3 linked regions of the Homo sapiens genome follow. The protein of the gene in region 1 purifies or fractionates together with the protein of each later gene. This does not show direct contact. Each region holds a gene or a part of one and is shown in the gene's direction. Other genes may lie near its edges.

Evidence for each region. The genes of interacting proteins can lie anywhere in the genome.
Region 2: the proteins of GPN1 (region 1) and POLR3E purify together in Homo sapiens (affinity purification with mass spectrometry; 3 studies listed by BioGRID and IntAct, with this or other methods). This does not show direct contact.
Region 3: the proteins of GPN1 (region 1) and POLR3B purify together in Homo sapiens (affinity purification with mass spectrometry; 4 studies listed by BioGRID and IntAct, with this or other methods). This does not show direct contact.

What each region holds. Positions count from the first base shown.
Region 1 is NC_000002.12:27,638,435-27,646,275, forward strand, and holds part of GPN1 (GPN-loop GTPase 1), read left to right. Parts: intron 1-450; coding exon 451-597; intron 598-1,608; coding exon 1,609-1,691; intron 1,692-2,805; coding exon 2,806-2,845; intron 2,846-3,608; exon of another isoform or gene 3,609-3,735; intron 3,736-3,994; coding exon 3,995-4,085; intron 4,086-4,133; exon of another isoform or gene 4,134-4,458; intron 4,459-7,841. UniProt on the Homo sapiens protein: Small GTPase required for proper nuclear import of RNA polymerase II (RNAPII). May act at an RNAP assembly step prior to nuclear import.
Region 2 is NC_000016.10:22,314,290-22,322,036, forward strand, and holds part of POLR3E (DNA-directed RNA polymerase III subunit RPC5), read left to right. Parts: intron 1-799; coding exon 800-919; intron 920-2,311; coding exon 2,312-2,397; intron 2,398-2,705; coding exon 2,706-2,750; intron 2,751-2,825; coding exon 2,826-2,917; intron 2,918-4,536; coding exon 4,537-4,657; intron 4,658-7,747. UniProt on the Homo sapiens protein: DNA-dependent RNA polymerase catalyzes the transcription of DNA into RNA using the four ribonucleoside triphosphates as substrates.
Region 3 is NC_000012.12:106,430,629-106,438,375, forward strand, and holds part of POLR3B (DNA-directed RNA polymerase III subunit RPC2), read left to right. Parts: intron 1-1,689; coding exon 1,690-1,852; intron 1,853-3,090; coding exon 3,091-3,244; intron 3,245-6,428; coding exon 6,429-6,503; intron 6,504-7,052; coding exon 7,053-7,151; intron 7,152-7,747. UniProt on the Homo sapiens protein: Catalytic core component of RNA polymerase III (Pol III), a DNA-dependent RNA polymerase which synthesizes small non-coding RNAs using the four ribonucleoside triphosphates as substrates.

The sequences.
Region 1 (7,841 bases):
ACTCTTGTCTAAAATTATTTTAGGCTAGGTAGAGTAGCACTTCAACCACAGTATGTAGATTATCCCTCAGAGTCAAGATTGTGTAATTACGAGAGGGACAACTAGTCTACTGGAAGTGGCAATTAAAAAATTCTAAACTTCTCTGTTGGTTGATGGCTAGGATGCAAGAGACCTTTTGACTTCAGAGCCTAGAATGTGCTGGTGTCCATTCTGGTCCTGGTACTTGGCAGTGGATAGTGGAGGGTCAACCAAGAGAATACACATCTTCATTTAATTACACTGACTACACAATGATTGTGGTTCTTTGTGGCTTGTTGCAATGGAGGGGAAATAGAAGCAGAGAAAGAAAATATATGGATGATATGTTCTTTGCTGTCAACACTTAATTAAAAGAATAAATTTTGCGTTTGTTGGCTCTGGTTGCTCATAATTGACTTCTCTCTGGTACAGACTGACATCATTGACCACAGCTTTGCAGTGGAATGGATGCAGGATTTTGAGGCTTTCCAAGATGCCTTGAATCAAGAGACTACATACGTCAGTAACCTGACTCGTTCAATGAGCCTGGTGTTAGATGAGTTTTACAGCTCACTCAGGGTAAATTTTCTCTCCTGCTCACACTGACAGCCTCTCCAGATAATCTGTTAACCCATAGGATTGGCTTTGAACCTGGCTGAGAAAGGAAGCTTATTACCTACTGAAAAGTAACTTTTAAAGCATTGCTTATTAAAAATTGTGGAGTGTACAAGAAGAATAAGATAGGGACCCCAGCTTCAGAGTTTATAGTCTATTTGGGAGAGAAGGCTACACACAGAATTAAAACATATGATATATTGTAGTAAGTACCTTAAGAAAGATTGGAAGTTGGGCCTGATGATTGTGAGGCGGCAGATCAAAATGACAGATTTTGGAGGATGTAGCATTAGAGGTATGCTTTGAAGAAGGGTAAGATTTATGTAAGCAAAGGCAGAATGGGTTAATTGCCCAAGGAAAGACATAGACAAAGCAGAAAGTGATTTGGTTTGGTTTGTTAGGGAATAGATAATAAGTCCTGTTAATTGTTCAGTCCTAATTATCTTTTTTTTTTCTTTTTTCCCTTTGGAGAGAGGATCTTGCTTTGTTTTACCCAGGCCAGAGTGTAGTGACAGGATCACAGCTCACTGCAGCCTTGACCTCGTGGTCTCAAGGGATCCTCCTGCCTCAGCTTACCAAGCAGCTAAGACTATAGGCGTGTGCGGTATACCATACCCAGCTAATTTTTTATATTTTGTAGAGACTGGGGTCTCGCTATGTTCCCCAGGCCAGTCTTGAATGCTTGGCCTCAAGTGCACCTCCTGCCTCAGCCTCCCAAAGTACTGGTAGTATAGGCATGTGCCACTGCACTCAGGCCATATCTTTCTTTTTCAATTTTTTATTTTCCATGGACTTATTTCTGTGACTTTTGACTGGGTGTGCTGTTTTGTTCTTTTTTAGCCTGGCTTTTTGCCAAAGACTTCTCAAAATATAAACCACTCTTACTAAGATTTTATGACATTTAAACAAGTTAATGTACTTCATTAAAAAATATACAATGGTTTCTTTAGTGGCATTTATGATGCTTTTTGGCAGGTGGTGGGTGTCTCTGCTGTTCTGGGTACTGGATTAGATGAACTCTTTGTGCAAGTTACCAGTGCTGCCGAAGAATATGAAAGGTGAGGATAAAGGAAAATTCTATTGATGACATTCTTAATAACCTACAATTCTGATATGAAAGCAGTTTTTCCAGGAAAAGCATTACATTTTCATGATGGATGTATTATATTTGGTTTGCATATGTGTATTGAATCAGACCACACTTAGGGGTGACAAGTTCCCTTTAAATTTTGTTTTTTTTAAATAGAAGTATAAATCTTCATTGTATTGAGTGATTAAGAGCAGGGATCATCAGACTTTTCTGTAAAGAGCTAAACAGTAGGTAGCTCAGGCTTTGTGGGTCATATAGTCTCTGTTGCAACTGCTCACGTCTGCCATTGTAGGACAAAAGCGTCCTCAGACAATTTGTAAATTAATGGGCGTGGCTAGTGTTACAGAAAAACATTTATGAAAACAGGCAGTGGGCTGGATTTGGCACTAAGGTTGTTGTGAAGATTGAGAAAACGTATACAGCACTTATCACAATTGCTGACATATAGTAAGCACATTTTATAATAAATGTTATAACTATTGTCATTGTTAATACTGGAATTCAAGTAAAGAAAAGTGGAGTCAGAGCCCTGTGCACTTTCCTTAGGCCTGTGGCATGATAGCCGGCTTATTAGTGTCATGTGTCTTTGGCTTCATATTTTGCAAGATCCTAACAACCATATTTTGGTTTTCAGACATGTTATTTTGATTTTGATTCATTAGACACAAGGGTGTTATCAAAACCTTAGGATAGACTCTTTTCTGTATCCTTTCACTGTTGTTGTTCAAGTAAAGCACATAATTGTATGTTGCACGTCCTGAGCTCAACAGGCTTATCTTTTACTTATCTCACCCTTTTATCTCAAATGAATGGTGAGTTCATCAGTCATGTTCTCACCAATATTAATCTTTCCAGCCCAGCAGTCAGGATTGTGTCTCCTGGTTCCAAGGTGGGAGCGGGCACCTTGGCTTTTAATTCCATTGGGTAGACTCTGTCAGTGACTAAGATTTGTTACATCTGATGTTGAATGAAGTCAGATGTTTTATTATTGTCAGTCTTAGGAAAATAGAGATAAGGGGATGTGGAGAGTCAGTAGGATAGAGGATTAAGCAAAGGAATTTAGAAAGTGTTTCTCTTTACAGGGAGTATCGTCCTGAATATGAACGTCTGAAAAAATCACTGGTAAGAAGGGAGGCTGTTTGTATATTTTAAAAGGGCCATTAAAAAAACCCAGCTCAATCTTGATGACATAAGTGCTTTTGTTTTGGTTATTAATGTATCTTTTATTTAATTAAAAAAGTTTTTTTTGTAGCTTTATTGAGGTACAAGTGGCTAATGAAATTTCAGTGTATCTTCTAAATACTTGTTAATTTAAATTTGTAAATTTGTATGTATGTTGTCTGGGTGCGGAAAGTCTCCTTAATGTTTCTTCCCTTTCAGAGGTCAATTTAAAGCTAGTTGTAGAATTTTGTATAAGAGTGTAGTGGTGCTTCACAACTCCTTTTCTTGTTGTTGAGAAAGGGTCTCACTCTGTCACCCATGCCAGAGTGCAGTGGCACGATCGCGGCTCACTGCAGCCTCGACCTTTTGGGCTTAAGCGATCCTCCCATCTCAGCCACCCGAGTAGCTAGGACAACATGTATGTACCACATGCCTGGCTAATTTTATTTTGTAAATTTTTTGTATAGACAAGGTCTCACCGTGTTGCCCAGGCTGGTCTCAAATTCCTGAGCTCCTGCAGTCCTCCCTGCTGGGCCTCCTGTAGTGCTAGGATTACAGGCAGGTGCCACCATGCCCAGCCTTCTCTTATCCCAAATGATCGAGTGTCCTGCTTCCTTAGGCTCATTGGATCCTTTGTCTCTGAGCCTTCCTGCTATGTCTACTTCAGGTTTTTGTGTTTTTTTTCCCCCATATAATAAAGTTTATTGTATCTTTTGTTTTTTCATTTTGTAGGCTGGGGATGAATAAAGAGTAATGCTTTCTATGTAGGCATTTTGCCTAGCCAGTTTAAATGTTCCAGTTCAATTAACAGAGCAGGGGATCCACCCTGGACTGAACTCAACACTTTAGAATTGAGGGTTCTTTTGAAACCTTTTTGTGTTCCGTTTCTGAACCCTCTAAATCAGTCTGCAGAGCCCTCCAGTCTAAACTTCTGCAGTAACCCAGGCCCACGCTACTTAGTGTTTCTGTCCCTATACCAGACGTCCCTTATCTGCATCAGTTTTTATGTAGCCTCTAGTATTTGTATAATTCTTCATCTCCACTGAGAAGTCTGGCATCTAATTTGGGACTCCTTTTTGAATATGATGACATTTTTCTCTGTATATACAGGCCAACGCAGAGAGCCAACAGCAGAGAGAACAACTGGAACGCCTTCGAAAAGATATGGGTTCTGTAGCCTTGGATGCAGGGACTGCCAAAGGTATTGGAGGGTTTCTTGGTGTTAGGAACTAAAAAAAGGTTACACTTCTTTCTTTTATTTATTTATTTATTTTTGAGACGGAGTTTCACTCTTGTTGCCCAGGCTGGAGTCTCGGCTCACCACAACCTCCACCTCCCAGGTTCAAGCAGTTCTCCTGCCTCAGCCTTCCTGAGTAGCTGGGATTACAGGCATGTGCCACCACACCCGGCTAATTTTGTATTTTTAGTAGAGATGGGGTTTTTTCCATGTTGGTCAGGCTGGTCTCGAACTCCTGACCTCAGATGATCCACCCACCTGGGCCTCCCAAAATGCTGGGATTACAGGCATGAGCCACTGTGCCTGGCCGGTTACACTTATTTCTATCAGCAGGATTCTGTTTATATATGAGAGAGAGAAAGAGAAAAAGATAAAGGAAATGTGGTTTTATATATATATATATACACACACACACACACACACACACACACACACACACATACATATGCATACATATATATTAAAAAATAAAGGATTTGGAAAGGCAAATTTGAAATTATATACAGCTCTACCACTTTGGGTTCCTCTTTCAGGAAGTTTTTGCTTTACTTTGGCAATATACTTGATGTGTGCTGTGGTGGTTTTTTTTGTTTGTTTCTAACACTTTTAACCCTCCTCAATTTTTTTTATAATTAAAAAAAATTTTTTTTTTTTTACAGTTTGACCTTAATTTCAGATTTACAGAAGTTACATGAATAATACAAATAATTGCCATAATTATTCTATCAGATTCCCAAAATGTTAACATTCTACCATGTTTACTTTATTCTTTATCTATATATGACTTTATATGTTATATAAATATATATTTTTCCTGAATCATTTGAGTAAGTTACAGATATAATACTCTTTTACCTTGAATAATTCAGTGTCTTTTTCCTAAAAACAAGGATATAATTTTATATAACCTCAGTGCAGTTATCAGAAATCAGGAAATTAACATTGACATAATACTATAATATTAGCTAACATATAGATCTTATTCAGATGTAGCCATTTCCCCATGATAGCAGGAGAAAATCTGGATGTGCATTGTATTTAATTCTCACATGCCTTATACTCCTTTAGAATCTGGAACAGTGCCTTAGTCTGACTTTGTATTTCATGACTGACATTTTTTAAGCATGTAGGATAGTTATTTTATAGAGCATCCTTCAGTTTAGGTTTGTCTCATGTTTCCTCATGATTTGATTCAGGTGACTAATTTTTGAATTGTGTTTTTTCAAGGAATCACATTGGGAGGCACGTGATGTTGATTTGTCCCATTACTGGTGATGTTAACTTTGAGTATTTTTATAAAGTGGTGTATGCTACGTTTTTCATAAAGAATTACTATTTTTAGGCCGGGCGCAGTGGCTCACGCCTGTAATCCCAGCATTTTGGGAGGCCGAGGCGGGTGGATCACTTGAGGTCAGGAATTCGAGACCAGCCTGGCCAACATGGTGAAACCCCATCTCTCCTAAAAATACAAAAAATTAGCTGGGCGTGGTCGTGCATGTCTGTAATTCCAGCTACTCGCTGAGGCTGGAGAGTCTCTTGAACCCGGGAGGCAGAAGTTGCAGTGAGCAAAGATCGCGCCACTGCACTCCAGCCTGGGTGACAGAGTGAGACTCCCTCCATCTTAAAAACAACAACAACAAAAATTACTATTTTTAAATATGGCTGTTTTTCTGTTTGTAATAAGAATTTTGTGGGGTGATGCTTTGAGACTATAAATATCCTTTTAGTTTTCTAATGTTCACCCATTAGTTTTAATATCCATTGATATAATAGGAATATCAATTTTTCTGTGATTATATGTTGCAAATGTTTAATATTTTCTCCCTATCAGTTATCCTTTGACTTTGTTCACGGTGTTATTTTGCCATGCAAAAGTTCTTATTTTGTTTTGATGTAGTCAAATTGATCTATCTTTTATTGCATCTGGGATTTTAAGTCACAGTTAGGAAGCCTCTATATATACCTATGTTAAAGAGGAATTCACCTATTTTTTTTTATAGATTTGTCTGGTTTTATTTTCTAAATTGAGATCCCCGATTAATTTAGAGTTTATTCCTGGCTATAGTATAAGGTATATAAGTCGGTGTTATTTTTTTCATAAATAGTTGTATCTGTATGATTTATTTAAAAGTCTGCCTTTGCCTTAGTGAGTTTTTTTTTTGGTAGTGTTTTTTTTTTTTTTTTTTTTACAGATGAGGTCTGAGGCTGGTCTGGACCTCCTGGGCTCAAGCGATTTTTCCATCTCAGCCTGCCAACTAGTTTGGATAGGTGTATGCCACTGCACCTGGCTTGTAACAGCGATTTGAGATGCTACGTGTATAATGTTCCAGACCAGCCTCAGACCTCATCTCTAAATGTAGTAAAGTTCCATGCATACTTGAGTATACTTCTATATTATTTCACTGGACTGTTTATTTATTTATTTTTTTTGAGATAGTTTCTCACTCTGTCACCCAGGCTGGAGTGCAGTGGCGCAATCATAGCTCCCTGCAGCCTCGAACTACTGGGCTCAAGCATTCCCCCTGTCTCAGCCTCCAGAGTAGCTAGATCTACAGGTGTGTGCCACCACGTCTGGCTAGTTTTAAGGAAATTTTTAATAGAGACGAGGTCTCACCATGTTGCCCAGGCTGGTCTTGAACTCTTGGCCTCAGGCAGTCCTCCTGTCTTGGCCTCCCAAGGTGTTGGGATCATAGGCATAAGCCACCATCCCCAGCCCATTTTTTTTTTCTTTTAACTTGCTTTGGTGAGCAAGGACTCCTTACTTTTATGCCTGTACCATGTTGTTTTAATTATGTAATTATGTTTCAATATCTGCTAGATCAGATTCTCCTCCTAATTTTTATTTGGCTGTCCTTACATGTTCTTCCATATGAACTGAGTATCAACTTTATCTAGTTCCTTAAAAAAGCTTTTTGGTATTTTAGTTGGGATTACATTATATTCATAATTAATTTAGGGAGAAGTGACATCTCTATGATGTTCAGTCTTGCTACCCAAGACCACAGAGTGTCTTTGTATTTGTCAGGTCTACTTGTGTCTTTCAGGAGTGTTTCCAGTTTTCCATATATAGGTTTTTCTTATTTCTTTTTAAAATGTTTTTGTTATTTTAGCCAACCTTTTTGACCAAGAGTTTTTGCCTGTTTCTTTTTAATTTTTTTTTTTTAAAACAAATCATCTTTATGTATTTGTTTTGAGACAGGGTCTTGCTCTGTCACCCCAACTGGAGTGCAGTGGTGTGATCTTGGCTCACTGCAGCCTCTGCCTCCTGGGTTCAAGCTATTCTCCTGCCTCAGCCTCCCAAGTAGCTGGAACTAGAGGTGCCTGCCACCATGCCGGGCTAAATTTTGTATTTTTAGTGGAGATGAGGTTTTGCCGTGTTGCCCAGGCTGGTCTCGAACTCCTGGGCTCAAGTGATCTGCCCACCTCAGCCACCCAAAGTACTGGGATTACAGGTGTGAACCACTGTACCCAGCTTGAAATTTATGTATGTATGTATTTATTTTTGAGGCAGAGTCTTGCTCTGTCACCTAGGCTGGAGTGCAATGGCGCGATCTCGGCTCACTGCAACCTCCGCCTCCCGGGTTCAAGCGATTGTTGTGCCTCAGCCTCCTGTGTAGCTGGGACTACAGGCACATGCCACCACGCCCAGCTAATTTTTGCATTTTTAGTAGAGACAGGGTTTTGCCATGTTGGCCAGGCTGGTCTTGAACTCCTGACCTC
Region 2 (7,747 bases), on another chromosome or scaffold:
GCTATACACAAGATGGAAGCCCTGGCTGGATCCAGGAGATGTGTGCCTGGGGCTTGGCTAGAGTCACCTGGGAGCAGGAAGCTGGGGCCAGGAGCCCTGAGGACCCGCAGACCAGCTCTGCCATGAACCTGTATCTTAACAGAGCCAAAGTCAATTAACTGTGATTCTATCCTCTTTATGGGGCACGGATGAATAGTTTTCGTTTTAATAGTTATTCCTGAATTTTAAAGATTTTTCAAAGAATCTTAACCTTCCATTTATGGTTTGTAAAGTTTTCCCTATTTAAGCATATTTAGATTAAAATGAGTAGTACCAAAAGAAAAATGCTACACGTAGAATGATGATACACAAGTATGGCTAGAGAGTGGTGAGTGTTTGGAAGCCCTTGAGGACCGGGGAACACGGGCGTAATGGACATGGAGGTGGCGCAGGGAGCTCATCCTGTTCTCTCCGTAGCTTATTAGGACCTTAGAAACTCCCTTCCGCTCTGGGGAACTTAGAAAAGGCATCCTGGGCCTGTCTGCTTTAAGGACTCTGCTGGCTCTGGCGCCTGGGACTCTAATCCCCCTCAAGCCTCTGGGCTGGGCAGGCACGAGCAAGTATAAGCCGTTCCCTGGCGTGTGCAGGCAGCTCTGGGAGGGACACGGTTGGAACGGAATTTAAACGACCTGTGCTAGGAAAGGAAGGGAGAGTGGAAAACCCCTATACGGAGTTCTCTGGTCTTCTGGCAGGGGCTGAGACGGCAGTCCAGCAAGGGTCACAGGCCTGACGGTATGACCTCTTCCCCTTCCCACCGCAGGTGCGGTTCTCCCGGCCGGAGTCAGAGCAGGCCCGCCAGCGCCGTGTGCAGTCCTATGAGTTCCTGCAGAAGAAGCACGCAGAGGAGCCCTGGGTCCACCTGCATTACTATGGCCTGAGGGTGAGCGGGGCTTCGTGGGGTCCTGGGGGAAACACCTCGGTGCCCGGAAGGGTCATGGTGTGGCCTCCGTGTCTCACCTTGAACTTAAGTCAAATTCATGAGTCATAGCCACAGATAGAGGATCGAGTCCTGTGGGCAGTTTACACTTCACTCCAGCCGAGCCACTTAGCGTGGGCCCCAGGAGAGCAAGAGGAAAAGATGCGAGTCCTTGGTTCCCTGGGTGGGGTTTGGCCCCTGGGCATGGGCATCTTGCTGGGCTTGCAGTGGGGCTAGTGCCTGGTAACATATTTTCGCTGCAGCCCAGGCCCTAAACGCAGGCCAGATGCATTCTCCGGTTCTGTCCTAGAGGGTCGGTCATGTGTTGCCACCCCAGAGTTCCCAGCACCACCTGCCCAGGGGATTTTCTTACTGTGCTTGGTTTTCATCTGGTACGCTGACTTTATTTACTTTTATTTTTATTTATTTATTATTTATTTATTTATTGAGACAGTCTCATTCTGTCACCCAGGCTGGAGTGCAGTGGCTCGATCTCAGCTCACTGCAACCTCCGCCTCCCGGGTTCAAGTGATTCTTCTGCCTCAACCTCCCAGGTAGCTGGGACTACAGGCACCTGCTAATTTTTTTGTTTTTGTTTTTTTAGTAGAGATGGGGTTTTGCCATGTTGGCCAGGCTGGTCTCGAACTCCTGATTTCCAAGTGATCTGCCCACCTCAGGCTCCCTAAGTGCTGGGATTACAGGCGTGAGCCACGACCACCTGGCCCTGGTGCATTGATTTTAGAACCTAACCCTTGAAACTGTGTACTGAGTGAGGGATGCTTCCAAAGACACCATGGGCCAGGGCTCCCAATATTTTCTGGGGTGGGGAACAACTCCTGATTTCTCTGGAACCTTCTTGGAAGAGATTTGTGTTAACAGACCCTTAGACTCGGGGTCAAACTTCTAGACACTGCTGTTTCCTGCTGTGTGACCTTGGGCATGTTAGCTAACCTCTCTGAGCCTCAGTTTTCTTAATTATAAAATGAGAGTAGTAATAATAGTACCTACCTTGCCAAGTTATTTTGAGGGTGAGATGGGTTAGTATATTTACAGTCAGTGGAACAGAGTCCACCACATCCTAGATGCCCAGTGAATGTTAGCCATCATTTTGTCATTGCTGGTGGTGTACCTGTGTTACAGACAAGGCATCGAGGCTTGGGGGCTGGGGCTGGGCAGGTCATAAGGCCAGGAAGATGAGTGGCTGAGGCCACGTCAGAGGCCTTGGGTGCCGTGCTCAGGAGGTTGGATGTGGTCCTGTGGCTGGCCATGGAGTGGAAGACGGGAGGCCTTGGGGGAGGGGGCCCAGGCCAGGGCCATCAGCTGAGGCTCCTCTCACACCCTGCCCTCCTCCAACAGGACAGTCGCTCTGAGCATGAGCGTCAGTACCTGCTGTGCCCCGGCTCAAGCGGGGTGGAGAACACGGAGCTCGTCAAGTCACCCAGGTGGGATGGGCTGGGCCAGCATGCAAACTGGATGCCTGCCCAGGGTCCCCAGGGGTCCTTGGTGTGGATCCTCCCAGAGGACTGTGGCCCCTCCTGTAGCATGAGGGTGGAGCCCATTGTCCCCTGGAGAAGGCCAGGAGGGTGGGCCTGGAAAGAGATGGTCCACTTTTCTGCAGGGGCTCAGGGCTGCTGGGGGAGGGCGGGGGTGGGCTGTCTGCACCCTCTCCCCAGACCCTCACTTGGGTGGCTGGTGAGGAGGGTCCAGCCTGGATCAGCCCTGAGCCTCTGCCCCTGCCATGTCCCTGCAGTGAGTACCTGATGATGCTGATGCCACCCAGCCAGGAGGAGGAGAAGTGAGTAGAGGCGGCAGGACACCCTCTCCCTTTCCGGGCTGGCTGCCTCTAACCCGTCCCCTCTGCTTTTCCCAGAGACAAGCCTGTGGCCCCCAGCAACGTCCTGTCGATGGCCCAGCTGCGCACGCTGCCCCTGGCCGATCAGATCAAGATCCTGATGAAGAATGGTGGGTGCCTACCCCCTGCCCACCCGGGGGCCCCAGTCCCAGTGGCTCCTGAGGAATGGACTCTGTGGGACAGTGAGGACCAGGGGACAAGGCCAGAGGCCCCTGCTGCCCACAGCCTGCCCAGCTTTGCAGCTGCATCCTTGTCTGGAAAGATAACGCAGGACGGCAGTGCGGCCAGCTCCCGCAGGCAGCCCGGGTTCCCGTGAATGTAGGACAGTAGTGTGTCTGGCCCCCACAGGCGGGCTCGGGTTCCTGTGCCATGCTCACCACTTGTCTGCCATGCTCTTGGGCAGGTCATGAACCTTTCTGAGGCTTTGTTTGTTTTTCTGTGAAAAGAGACTAATGATAGTTCCTGGGGGCCAATGTGAGGAATCAGAGAGAGGAGGCTTCTAAAGTACAGGGCCTTGCAGGCGAACACGGACTAGGGGCTTTTTGTTGTTGTTGTTGTTGTTGTTGTTGTTTTTTTTTTTAAGGTTTTTTTAAAGGTTTTAAAGGTTTTTTTTAAAGGTTTTGCTGTGTAACTCCTGGGCCCAAGTGATCCTCCTGCCTCAGCCTTCCGAGTGGCTGGGCCTACAAGCAGACGCCATTCACTGCACCGGCTCAACTAGGGTCATTTTCATGACAATGTCTTCACTGGCATTGCTTCTGGGTACTCTTGCCAGACCTGGCACCATAAGGACTGGTCTCCTTTTCTCAGAGGACTCTGAGTGCCAGAACCTTTAGGGTACCCGTGGCTGGTGAACAACAGACCTGATCCTTGAGTTCAGAATGGAGCCGCAGAACCTGGGCTCGTCCTTTGAGATGCCACCATGAGCTCTTAGGAGTCTAAGGAGAGAGGGGAGCTCCATGATATGCTCGGGATTTTAGGCTTCCTTCCTGCAGAGGACTTCGAACTTTTTTTTTTTTTGAGACAGTCTTGCTCTGTCACCCAGGCTGGAGTGCAGTGGCACAATCTCGGCTCACTGCAACCTCCGCCTCCCGGGTTCAAGCAATTCTCATGCCTCAGCCTCTGGAGTAGCTGGGACTACAGGTGCCCGCCATCACGCCCAGCTAATTTTTGTATTTTTAGTAGAGATGGGGTTTCGCCTTGTTGGCCAGGCTAGTCTCAAATTCCTGGCCTCAAGTGATCTGCCTCCCTCGGCCTCCCAAAGTGCTGTGATTACAGGTGTGAGCCAAAGCGCCCAGCCAAATTTTGGACTTTCCCTGGGCCCTGCCCAGGGCTCACTTGGGCGGGAGCAGAGCACAGTGATTGAGGGTACCAAGTGGAGCCAAGTGGCTTGGGTTCACTTCCTGGCTCTGCTACTTCCTAGCCAAGAGATCATGGGTGAGCTTTGAAGCCTTTCCAGGTCTGAGTAGTAATAGACCCTTCCTCCTGAGGCACCCCTCAAGTCTTCCTTAAGGGGCACTTCATATAATCCTCAGATTTCATGAGGTGCCCAGTGCCTGGCATGTAGTGAGCAGCCTGAGAGTGTCAGCTGTTGGCTATGATGGGTGTCATTACTGTTAGTTATCACATTCTGGGGTTATTACATGAACTTGAAGCTATGCGGACTCTCGGTGGAGGGGAGGGAAGGGCCCGGCCCCTCTTCCTTGTCTGATGTCTCCTGCGTCCTCCTCAGTGAAGGTCATGCCTTTTGCCAACTTGATGAGCCTCCTGGGCCCCTCCATCGATTCCGTGGCTGTTCTGCGGGGCATCCAGAAGGTGGCGATGTTGGTCCAAGGGAACTGGGTGGTGAAGAGGTAAGTTGCTTTTTTTATTTTTTATTTTTATTTATTTTTTTCCTTGAGGCAGAGCTTCACTCTTGTTGCCCAGGCTGGTGTGTAGTGGCGCAATCTCGGCTCACTGTAACTTCTCCCTCCCAGGTCCAAGCAACTCTCCTGCCTCAGCCTCCTGAGTAGCTGGGATTATAGGTGCCCGCCACCATGCCCAGCTAATCTTTGTGTTTTTAGTAGACACGGGTTTCACCATGTTGGCCAGGCTGGTCTCGAATCCTGACCTCAAGTGATCCACCCACCTCGACCTCCCAATGTGTTAGGATTATAGGCGTGAGCCACCGGGCCCGGCCTACGCTGTATTCTCTTAATGGGAGCATTTGGTCCTTTTAAATTTAATGCAGTTACTAGTGCTTTGGGTTTAAATCTACAGTGCTTTCTATTTGTCCTGCCTACATTGCATTTAAACTGTTTTTTGTTTTTTTGTTTTTTTTTTTGAGACAGAGTCTCGCTCTGTCCCACAGGCTGGAGTGCAGTGGTGCGATCTCGGCTCACTGCAAGCTCTGCCTGCCGGGTTCACGCCATTCTCCTGCCTCAGCCTCCCGAGTAGCTGGGACTACAAGGCACCCGCCACCACGCCCAGCTAATTTTTTGTATTTTTAGTAGAGATGGGGTTTCACTGTGTTAGCCAAGATGGTCTCCATCTCCTGACCTCGTGATCTGCCCGCCTCGGCTTCCCAAAGTGCTGGGATTACAGGTGTGAGCCACTGTGCCTGGCCGCATTTAAACATTTTTTAAATTGACACATAATGTACATATTTATGGGGGCAGTGTGAAATCTAAATACATGTATACAATGTAATGATCAAATCAGGGCAATTAACATATCTATCCCCTCAAACATTTCTCATTTTTGTGTTGGGCACATTCAAACTTCACTTTTCTAGCTATTTAAAATTATACAATAAATTGTTCTTAATTATAGTCACCCTGTAGTACCCTTTGTCCTGCCTACATTGGATTTTTATATCATTCTTACCATCTGCTGGATTCATTTCTGTTTCTATTTTTTCCTGCTAACTTGGAAGTTACACTGTTTGGGCTCATATATTGATTACCCTACAGTTTTCAGCTTACATTCATGACTTAACACATTTTAATGTTAATTGCTGCTTTTTACCCCATTCCAATCTATTCAGAGATCTTAGAATATTTTATATCTATCCTCATACTTACACACTGCTAGATTGGTATATATATATTTTTTTACCTTTTTAATTTGCCAATCTTCTCTAGTGTTCCAATTTTAGTATATGTACTGCCGAAGAGAGCACAGGATTGGTGTATTTTTATTTTTTTTTTGAGATAGTCTCTCTCTCTTGCCCAGGCTGGGGTGCAGTGGCACAGTCTCAGCTCACTGCAACCTCTGTCTCCCGGGTTTAAGCGATTCTCCTGCCTCAGCCTCCCAAGTAACTGGGATTATAGGCGCTTGCCACCACGCCCGGCTAATTTTTGTATTTTTAGAAGAGGCAGGGTTTTGCTGTGTTGGCCAGCTGGTCTTGAACTCCTGACCTCAGGTGATGCACCCATCTCGGCCTCCCAAAGTGCTGGGATTACAGGCGTGAGCTACCGTGCCCGGCCTGGTGTATTTTAATTCTCTGTATGTTTTCAGCCCCATAAGACATTACTGTATCCAGTCAATCAATATTCTTTACTCGCATGTTTATAATTTAGTCATCATTTCTTTCTGCATCTCTAAGTTTCTATCTGGGATCATTTCGTTCTGCCTAAAGAATGCTATAGTATTTCCTTTAATGTGGGTCTGTTGGTGATGCATTTCCTTGGTTTTTGTGTGTCTGGAAATGTCTATTTCACCTTTGTTCTAGAATTCTAGATTGGTGGTTATTTTCCTTTCCACGCGTTGATATGATTTTGTTGTGTTCCGACTTCATTGTTTCTGTTGGCAGTTTTGTTCTTATTCCTTTGAAGGCAGCCTGCCTTTGTTTTCCTCTGGCTGCTTTTAGGAGTTTCTCTGTTTTTGGTTTTCTACGGGTTCGTTTAGATGTGTCTTTAAGTGTGAATTTTTTACATACTCTGCTGGGGATCACAGGTCTTGAGCGTGGGGCTTGATGCCTTTCAGTGGTTTCTCTTCGGCGAATCCTCCCCTAGACCATGTGCTGCCTCCACGAGACCATCAGTTTCAAGGGATTAGGGATGTCTGTTTTGACTCCTGCTTTATGTTCCCAGTACCCGGAATAATGCCTGGATATTACCAGTGCAGACCCTTGGTAAATAATGTGGCTACGTTTTACTTGAATTATATTGATTCTGAATGATGTAGCATTAATTGCATTAATAACTCACTTTTTAAGTAATGTAGTTTAAGGTGAGCAATGTGACAAAATGTGAAATGTTGAACATTTTAAGAAAATACAATGCCTTGAAAGCTCCTCATAGTTGTAGAGTATATTCGTGTTACTGCCACCTGGTGGCGCCCTTGCACTGCTCCACAGGTGCCCAGCGCAGTTTGTCAGCACCTTGCGGCTGTTGTCCTTTGTTACACGTTTTCATCATGGAAGGCTTTTGCAATGGCGCATCGCGTATTACATAGGACCACGTGTGTATATTTACACCATAAGTGAATGAAAGCCAAGAGGGGTCCTCCCGTCACACACCTGAGGACACTGGCCCAGAGAGGCATGGGACTTGCCAAAAGTCTTGCAGCAAGGCAGCCGCAGAGCCCTGTTAAAACCTAAGCCTCATGGCTCAGCCCTGGGCTCTGCACCCAGCACTGCATGTGTCCCCTGGAGGTGCTGCCCCTTTTAGTTTCGCCCTGTCCTGGGGACTGGAAGGTAGGGACTTGGGGACTGTGGGCATTTCACCTGCCCCGGCACTTCTGTAAGCCCTACTCTGCTGCTGCCCATGCTGCCATGTCAGGGGCCCCTGGGTGAGGGTCCTGTGTGTGCCTGTGAGGAGACAATGCAAAATCCATGCCTCCATTCAGTCACTATGGCTAGACTGCTCGTTCTGTGCCATGGACCGGGCTCTCATTCAGACACTGCCCCTGGGGATGGCGGCTGTTACATTTGAGCTCCCTGAATGCAGAGATCATGGCAT
Region 3 (7,747 bases), on another chromosome or scaffold:
AGACTACATTAGTATCATTCTAAAACTAGGACCTGCAGAAGCATTTGATTCAGTATGTTAGCTAAAAGTAATATAGTCCATGTTTCTCTTTATTATTTTAGTTTATCCCAAAATCAAAACATGCACAGAGGGGATAAGACTGTGAAGGCAGATTGAAAGACCTACCACCTCTCATGCTCATGAGGGGCTCTTTTTGAGCAGCTCCTTATTGTCCTTAGGTAGGCTCAGTCACAGCCAATTAGGAGTATACAGTCCATGACCTAATGTGGATTTTGACTCACTTATATTGGAAACACAAGCAATTGCCTAAACATCAAGCCAGGGAGTTTACATGGGTTTACTTCTATAGCACCCGCTACTCCCTGTGTCACGGTCCTTTCTCCTTTGTGTTAACATTGTTAGTTTCACTTGATTCTATTCCTTCTAAATTGTAAAATTCTGGAGGAAGGAAGGTTCACCATTGTATCTCAAGCTCCTAACATAGAGCCTTGGTTAGAGTACAGGCCCCATGAATATATGCTGAATTAATAATTACAACAAGTAAAAGATGTAGGGTCCAAAGTGTAGGAATTTATTATTTGGAAGAGATGAAAATAGGAGTCTGTATAGAGCTGCGATTTTTAGAAACTATTTAATTTATCTTAAACCATATGGAAATTGACACTAAAATTATCCAGTTTGTCAAATTTTGCATAATTTATATATCTTGAACTTTGAAACATTTCATTTCCCAGAGATTGCTTCAGCTAACTTCAAAAAAGTAGCTATTTTGTACATTACTGCAGCAGATGGTTCTAAGACCTGAAGATACAATCTTACAAGTCACCTGTCTTAAGTATTTTTTTCCTATTTGCTATATTCTGTCCTTGTTGGTATTTTTGTTTTAGAACTGTACCGGGTTGCATAGATGTTTAAAAAGATTTCTTTTCTTTTCATTTTGAAATAATTTTAGATATACAAAAAAGTGATGAAACTGGTACAAAGATTTTCCACAATCTTTCATCTAGATTCCCAACTGTGAACATCTTATGTAACCATAGCACTGTTATCAGCCTCATGACATTGAACAATACTATAATCTATGGATCTTATTCAAATTTTGCCAGTTGTCCCACTGTTGTCTTTTTTCTGATCCAGAATCACACATTGTTTTTAGTTGTCATGTCTCCTTGTCTCTTTTCATCTGAAAGAGTTTTTCAGTCTGTCTTTATTTACCTTTCGTGACCAAGAAACTTAAGGGCACTGGCCAGTTATTTTATACAGTCTCTCATTTCAGGCCAGAAGTTTTATATTTTTATGTAGCTGCATTTATTAATGTTTTCCTTTACTTATTTTATACAATGTCATCATAATGACTGTAATGTTCCAATGTCTGGGAGTAATTGTTAATGTAATCAGTTTTGTTGGGCATTTATGATGTCGTCAGCATTTACAATTACAAATAGTACTGTGCTGAGCATTTCTGTATCTAAATCTATTTTATATCCTTGCTTGTTATGAAGAGAAATTCCCCTGAGTTAAGGGATATATATATTTTTTAAAGGCATTTGTGCGAATCACCACAGTATCCCCTACAAAGTTGTACTGCTTTGCATTGCTGCCAGCAAAGTAGTGAGCTATTTTCAGATGTAAACTGTACTTTGTATTACTAATGTTCATTCTTAGAAATGACCATCTTTTGTTTTTTAGGCATGTGGTTTGGTTAAAAACTTGGCCCTTATGACACACATCACAACTGATATGGAAGATGGACCCATTGTTAAATTAGCCAGTAACTTGGGAGTAGAAGATGTGAATTTATTATGTGGGGAAGAGCTCTCTTACCCAAATGTGTTTCTTGTCTTTCTTAATGGTGGGTATATTATAGAGACATGTTGGTCCTAGATAGTCTGTGAAGAGGGGGAGGGAATCCATTATTATCCTGGTATTTAAAGCACAGATAGACTTTAATTCTGGGCCCAGGTTGACCTTCACTTAAAGGTAGAAAATACAATGATAACAGAAACAGTTACTTTGTTGGCTGGGTTATCCAAGGTTCTGAGAGGATATAGCTATCAGAGCTAAAGGGTAACTTTGCAGAAAGTGGCTGCTTTCTCCCCTTTTGCAGTTGCTGGCATATCCTTAGTGGAATACGGTTCAACATGGTATCTTTAAGTACAAGTCAAATATTGGAGTCATTCTGCAAAAATTATCAGATCAACTCTTATAATGAATTGACTTTGTCTAGCCATCTGATAATCAATATGTCAGCAGCCTGTGATAAGAGGATCCCTCTCCTTTGGCTCACACTCCAGTTATTTCTTTCATATACCTCTTCCCGTCTCCTTCGAAGTCTTCCAGAGACTTAGCAGCAAGTGTGCTCTCTTCCTTTCTGCTTTTGATTTGGTGCTGTGTGCCTGTTCTCTCCCTAGTATGCTCCATGAGCTTATCCCTTATCACTTGTCTGTTCTCTCTTCCTCTCCCCCTTCCTCTCATTCTAGGAGGCATTAACTCTTTTTTATATCTGCTGGTGAGGAAGGGGTCAGAGCCTCAGCAGGGCTGTTAACTGACTGCCTAGTTCATTGTATCCCAGAGGCTAACATTGAGTGAGCTTTTACTCTGCACTTTCACCCAGTGCCTCTTTGAATCCTCCCGCTAACCTTGGGAAGCAAAGTTCATTTTCCTCATTTCACAAATGTTGATTACAACAAGAAGCAGTTTAATAATAGCAGTTAGTAGGTGCTAGGCAGAATTCTCAGTACTTTAAATGATCAGCTCGTTTAACCTTTACTGCCAGCCTGTGGAAGTGATGGAGCCAGTGTTCAAACCCAGGTTGTTTGGACCCCAAGTTCATGCCCCAGCACTGTGCTGAAAGATGAGGAAAATGAAGCTGACTTTTCCAGTATTCCTCAGCCTGCATGTGGAAGGACTGGCCCTTAAGCATTCTTCCTTTGTTGCTTCCCTGCAACCTTGTGGACTGGCTGCAGGTGTTAATAATGGTATTTTCAAATAACTGCTTAGTGCTGATTACTATTTTTATTGGTTGGATATATTAAATCAGGTTGCATTTATTTTTTATTTCTGTCTTACCTGTTCTTTCTTTTTGCCTAGGTAACATCTTAGGTGTCATTCGAGACCACAAAAAGCTAGTGAATACATTTCGACTCATGAGAAGAGCAGGATATATCAATGAATTTGTTTCCATCTCAACAAATCTTACAGATCGATGTGTCTATATTTCTTCTGATGGGGGAAGGCTATGCAGGTATATATGCAGGTTACTAAAAAGAGTTTTTAAGAATCTCTTTATATTTGCTCTTGAAAGAAATAGACTTGTTTTTATTTTTGAAACTGTTTTAACCTCTTTCATTGTGAAGATAAATTTAATTCCGTGAGCAAACACTTCATGAATATGCATATTAGGTACCGAGGATTCAGATTAATGGGAGACAGAGTCTGCCCTCAGAGAGCTCAGTCTGCCGGGAAAGGCAGAAAAAATGACTAATAACAATCAACTGTGGTAGTGGTTAATGCTAGCCACCATTTGTCATTTTAATGGAGACACTATATGTGTAAGGCTTTAACTTCTTCATTCAACCCTATGAGGTTGGATTATTCTTGTCATTTAAGAAATGAGGAAACTGAGGTTCAGTGAGGCTAAGTAACTTACTGAAAGCTAAAGAGTGGTGGAATCTGTTTTTTATTTGAAAGTCCTTAGGATTCGTTTGACGCATGATTTTGCCCACTATAGTCTGTTGCTACAAACTGAGCTTTAAAGGAGGAGTAGGATTGTGTTAACTTGGAGGTAGGTGGGGAGGAGAAAGGCTGAAAAAAGGCAAGAATGAAAACATGGAGGCATGAAGAAATAAAATAACACTAGATCCAATGGAAAAGTAGGTTCCTTTTATTCATTCAGTAAGTATTTATTAAGGGCCTATTGTGCACAGGTACTATCTAGGAGCCGGAGGTACAGAGACGAATGTGACATGGTGTCTGGTTTGAGGGGCTATGCAGAGACATCAGCTGAGGACATTGCCTTGTGTCACAAGCCTTTTCTAGCATTACCGTAGTTATTCTGTGTATACCTCGGGTAGTGTTGAAGCACAAGGCAGTGAGCCAGCAGTAGCTGGAAGTCTGTCAGAGCTGGGAGAGTGACTGCATGCTTTCTTTCCTCCAGCATCCTTTCCTCCTTCATATGACACTACCTCATTTTCTTTTGAGGACTGCCTGTCCCCATTGGCAGGCTTCTTGGGATGGTCAGTCCAGCACCCTCTTCTCTTCAGCCAGGGGTTGGGCATATGACCCAAATGAGGTCAGTCAGACCCCCTCATCAGAGAATTTGAATCCCAGGTAAAATAAATCAAGGGAGGGAGGTGGTTGGACTTGATTCATTCTCCCAGTGCTACATGCAAGAGACTGCCTGTTAAACCTCATTTTCTGGATTCTTGGAACTGCTCTCGTTCCTTTTCTTTCTGAGGCTGAGCATTTCACCTTTTTCTTTGATTCTTATCCTTCCATTAAATTATTTTTTTTTTTTTGAGACAGAGTCTCACTTTGTCACCCAGGCTGCAGTGCAGTGGTACGATCTTGAGTCACTGCAGCCTCCGCCTCCCAGGTTCAAGCGATTCTCATGTCTCAGCTCCCCACCCCCGTCCCTGACCCAGTAGCTGGGATTACAGGCACACACCACTGCCCCTGGCTAATTTTTTGTATTATTAGTAGTGATGGGGTTTCACTGTGTTGGCCAGGCTGGTCTCGAACTCCTGGCCTCAAGTGATCCACCCACCTCAGCCTCCCAAAGTGCTGGGATTACAGGTGTGAGCCATCGCACCCAGCACCTGTAAATTCTTAATGCTTCCAGTAAACTTCATTTTTGCTTAAATTAGCCAGAATTGGTTTCTCTTCTTTGCAACCGAAGAATGGTTAGCTGATGATATACCTGTGTTTGAATCCTAACTTCCCACTTACTGAGTTGTGTGACTCTGAGTATACTACTTCAGTCTCTCAGCCTTGGTTTCCTTGGCTGTAAAATGGAAACAATAATGCCTGCCTAAGATTGTCCTGAGAACTAGTTGATAGAAGGTGTGGTAAGTGCTCAGTAGGGTGCCAGGCACACATTAGGTGCTTATTTATAACTTAATAGCATGGTCCAGTTAAGGGCAGGAATAACAGTGACATTTTCTAGGTTACTCTTTTTTAGGATTTCATTACATCCAACATAATATATATTCAAAAATAAAACTCTTTTATAGAAGCAACTTTATAATGGCATAACAGATCTAGCAGGAAAAAATAGTAGAATGCGTTGAGTAACGTAAGGATAACTGAGGCAGCTAAATGTGATCCCCTCCCTCTCCTCCGCCGGTTTCTGTCTTCTCATCTGAGGCTTAACCTGAATCCACTGCAGCGCTCAAATGAGGCATTAGTAGGCTCTGCTTCCCTACCAAGAAGGAGCCAGAATTTCGAGGTACTGTGGATTTCCATGAAAAGCTCACCCAGTTCATTTTTCAACAACTTGTGTTCCCCTTTTGTAATTGTGCAGCTCCTCTTCTTAACTGTTGAAAAGTGCTCATTAGTCCTCAAATAGTTATTTGGACTTTAGGGTAGAGCGCACAAGTGTCTGGTGGTTACTTGCTCCTCTCTGTAAGAGCTGCTTATCCAAATAGCAACAGCCCTTGACGTTTCAGTGCCGCATGCCATCCTTTGTGTCCGGGTTTCCTCATGGTGGCAAAGCCCTCCGAGGCAAGTCCCCACTGACAGTTACAGGTTAATCTGCCAGAATGCCTTCTCCACCTTCCACCCATTACGTCACTGAAAACCACAAAGTAAGAAAGCTTCATTCTCTGCCAACTTTTAGCCACTCTCTTTGGTAATGTGTAGCTTTAAGTATCTTGCTAACCTAGCTCAGTGATGTTTAGACTAAATCAAACTACTCTAAACATCTGGATATTCATCAGAACCTCACAACACAACGCCGTTATTACCCTAGGTGACAGTGCTTCTTTGCCTGTTAACTCCATGAGTAGTATGCAAAATTTTCCAATGTGAAATCGGGAAGTTTTTAGATTGATACATTACACCGTTTTTTAAAATATGGCATTAAAGGTTTTGTTTCCTTTTCAGACTTTGAGTATCATTTTTGTGTTGCCTTTTCATTCAAAACCAAATGTTTCCTAAGATACTTGCAGGAAGCACTGTGTGTGTGCATGAATATGTCCACACATACTCACATGTACACATGGGCTTGGGTATGTATGTGTGTGTATGTGAGAGAGAGCATAGTCCCCTACACCATGCTCATCCATACAAAAATTACCTGGTGTCCTCAGCAATCCAGGAATAGGTTTGTTTGTATTTACATCTTCCCTCATCTCACTTTGGTAAACTAACTTGCCTGTGTAATTTTTCCCTGGAACTATTATTAATTTGGTTTGCTGTTTCCATTCTAGACCCTACATAATTGTCAAGAAACAGAAGCCAGCAGTCACAAATAAACATATGGAAGAGCTGGCCCAAGGGTACAGGTAAGTAGCCAAAAGTAAAACTTACCAATCTCCTTAATACCCACATACATGATTTAAGAAAAGTGTATTTTCATTTTAGTGTTTTAATTTCTTTCCACCAAATTACCAGCCTGTTAAAAACCTATTTTGCTCCATGTGAACTTGCTTGGACATTGTAAAATATTCATCAATTTAGATCATGAGGGTTACCTAGTCTTGATGTCAGTTAGTACACAAGTAAGTGTTTCTGGTAAGAAAAGGACTTACATCATGTGTCAGTGTAGACACTGTGGGTCTCATTATGAGGTTTCTAAGGTCAGAATTTTTTTTTTAAGAAGTGGGGACTAGGTTCACAAGAGTTACAGACAGACACTTTGCTGTTTTTATTTCAGCAGTTTGTGGTTACTGTGTGAGCTAAGAATAACATGTTTCAGGTATCCCAATGTAATGATATTCTCTGGGAGAGAAAGGTGCTTTGGGCCTAAACGAAAGCCAGTATCTCCTGTTATTATATAAAATACTGCAGAAAAATGCTTTTTAATGATGTCTCTTTCACCAATATTTTCCCAGGAATTTTGAAGATTTCTTACATGAGAGTCTGGTTGAATATTTAGATGTGAATGAAGAAAATGATTGTAACATTGCACTGTACGAACACACAATTAATAAGTAAGTAGGATCCATAGCAACCATAATTAAAACGTGTTCTGACTATAGAAACTACCTTCTCTTTTACTGTCATCTTCAGTCCTTCTATCTTTTACTCTTTTGACAGGAACTGTTAGAAATATACAATCTTCTTTTTTTTGTTTGAACATGCAGGTTTGTTACATAGGTAAACGTGGGCCATGGTGGTTTGCTGTACCTATCAACCCATCACCTAGGTATTAAGCCCAGCATGCATTAGCTATTTATCTTGATGCTCTTCCTCCCCCAACCCCCTAACAGTCCCCCTGGTGTGTGTTGTTCCCCTCCCTGTGTCCATGTGTTCTCATTGTTCAGCTTCCACCTGTGAGTGAGAACATGCGGTGTTTGGTTTTCTGTTCCTGTGTTAGTTTGCTGAGGATGGCTTCCAGCTTCATCCATGTCTCTGCAAAGGACATGATCTTGTTCCTTTTTATGACTGCATAGTATTTCATGGTATATATGTATATTGTATATTTCTGTATGTACCATAAAGAAATATACAATTTTATAGCAGAGCATAACGCATCATTTATCCTAGTGAAGAGTATTACAAAGCAGCTAACAAGTCATCTTTAGAT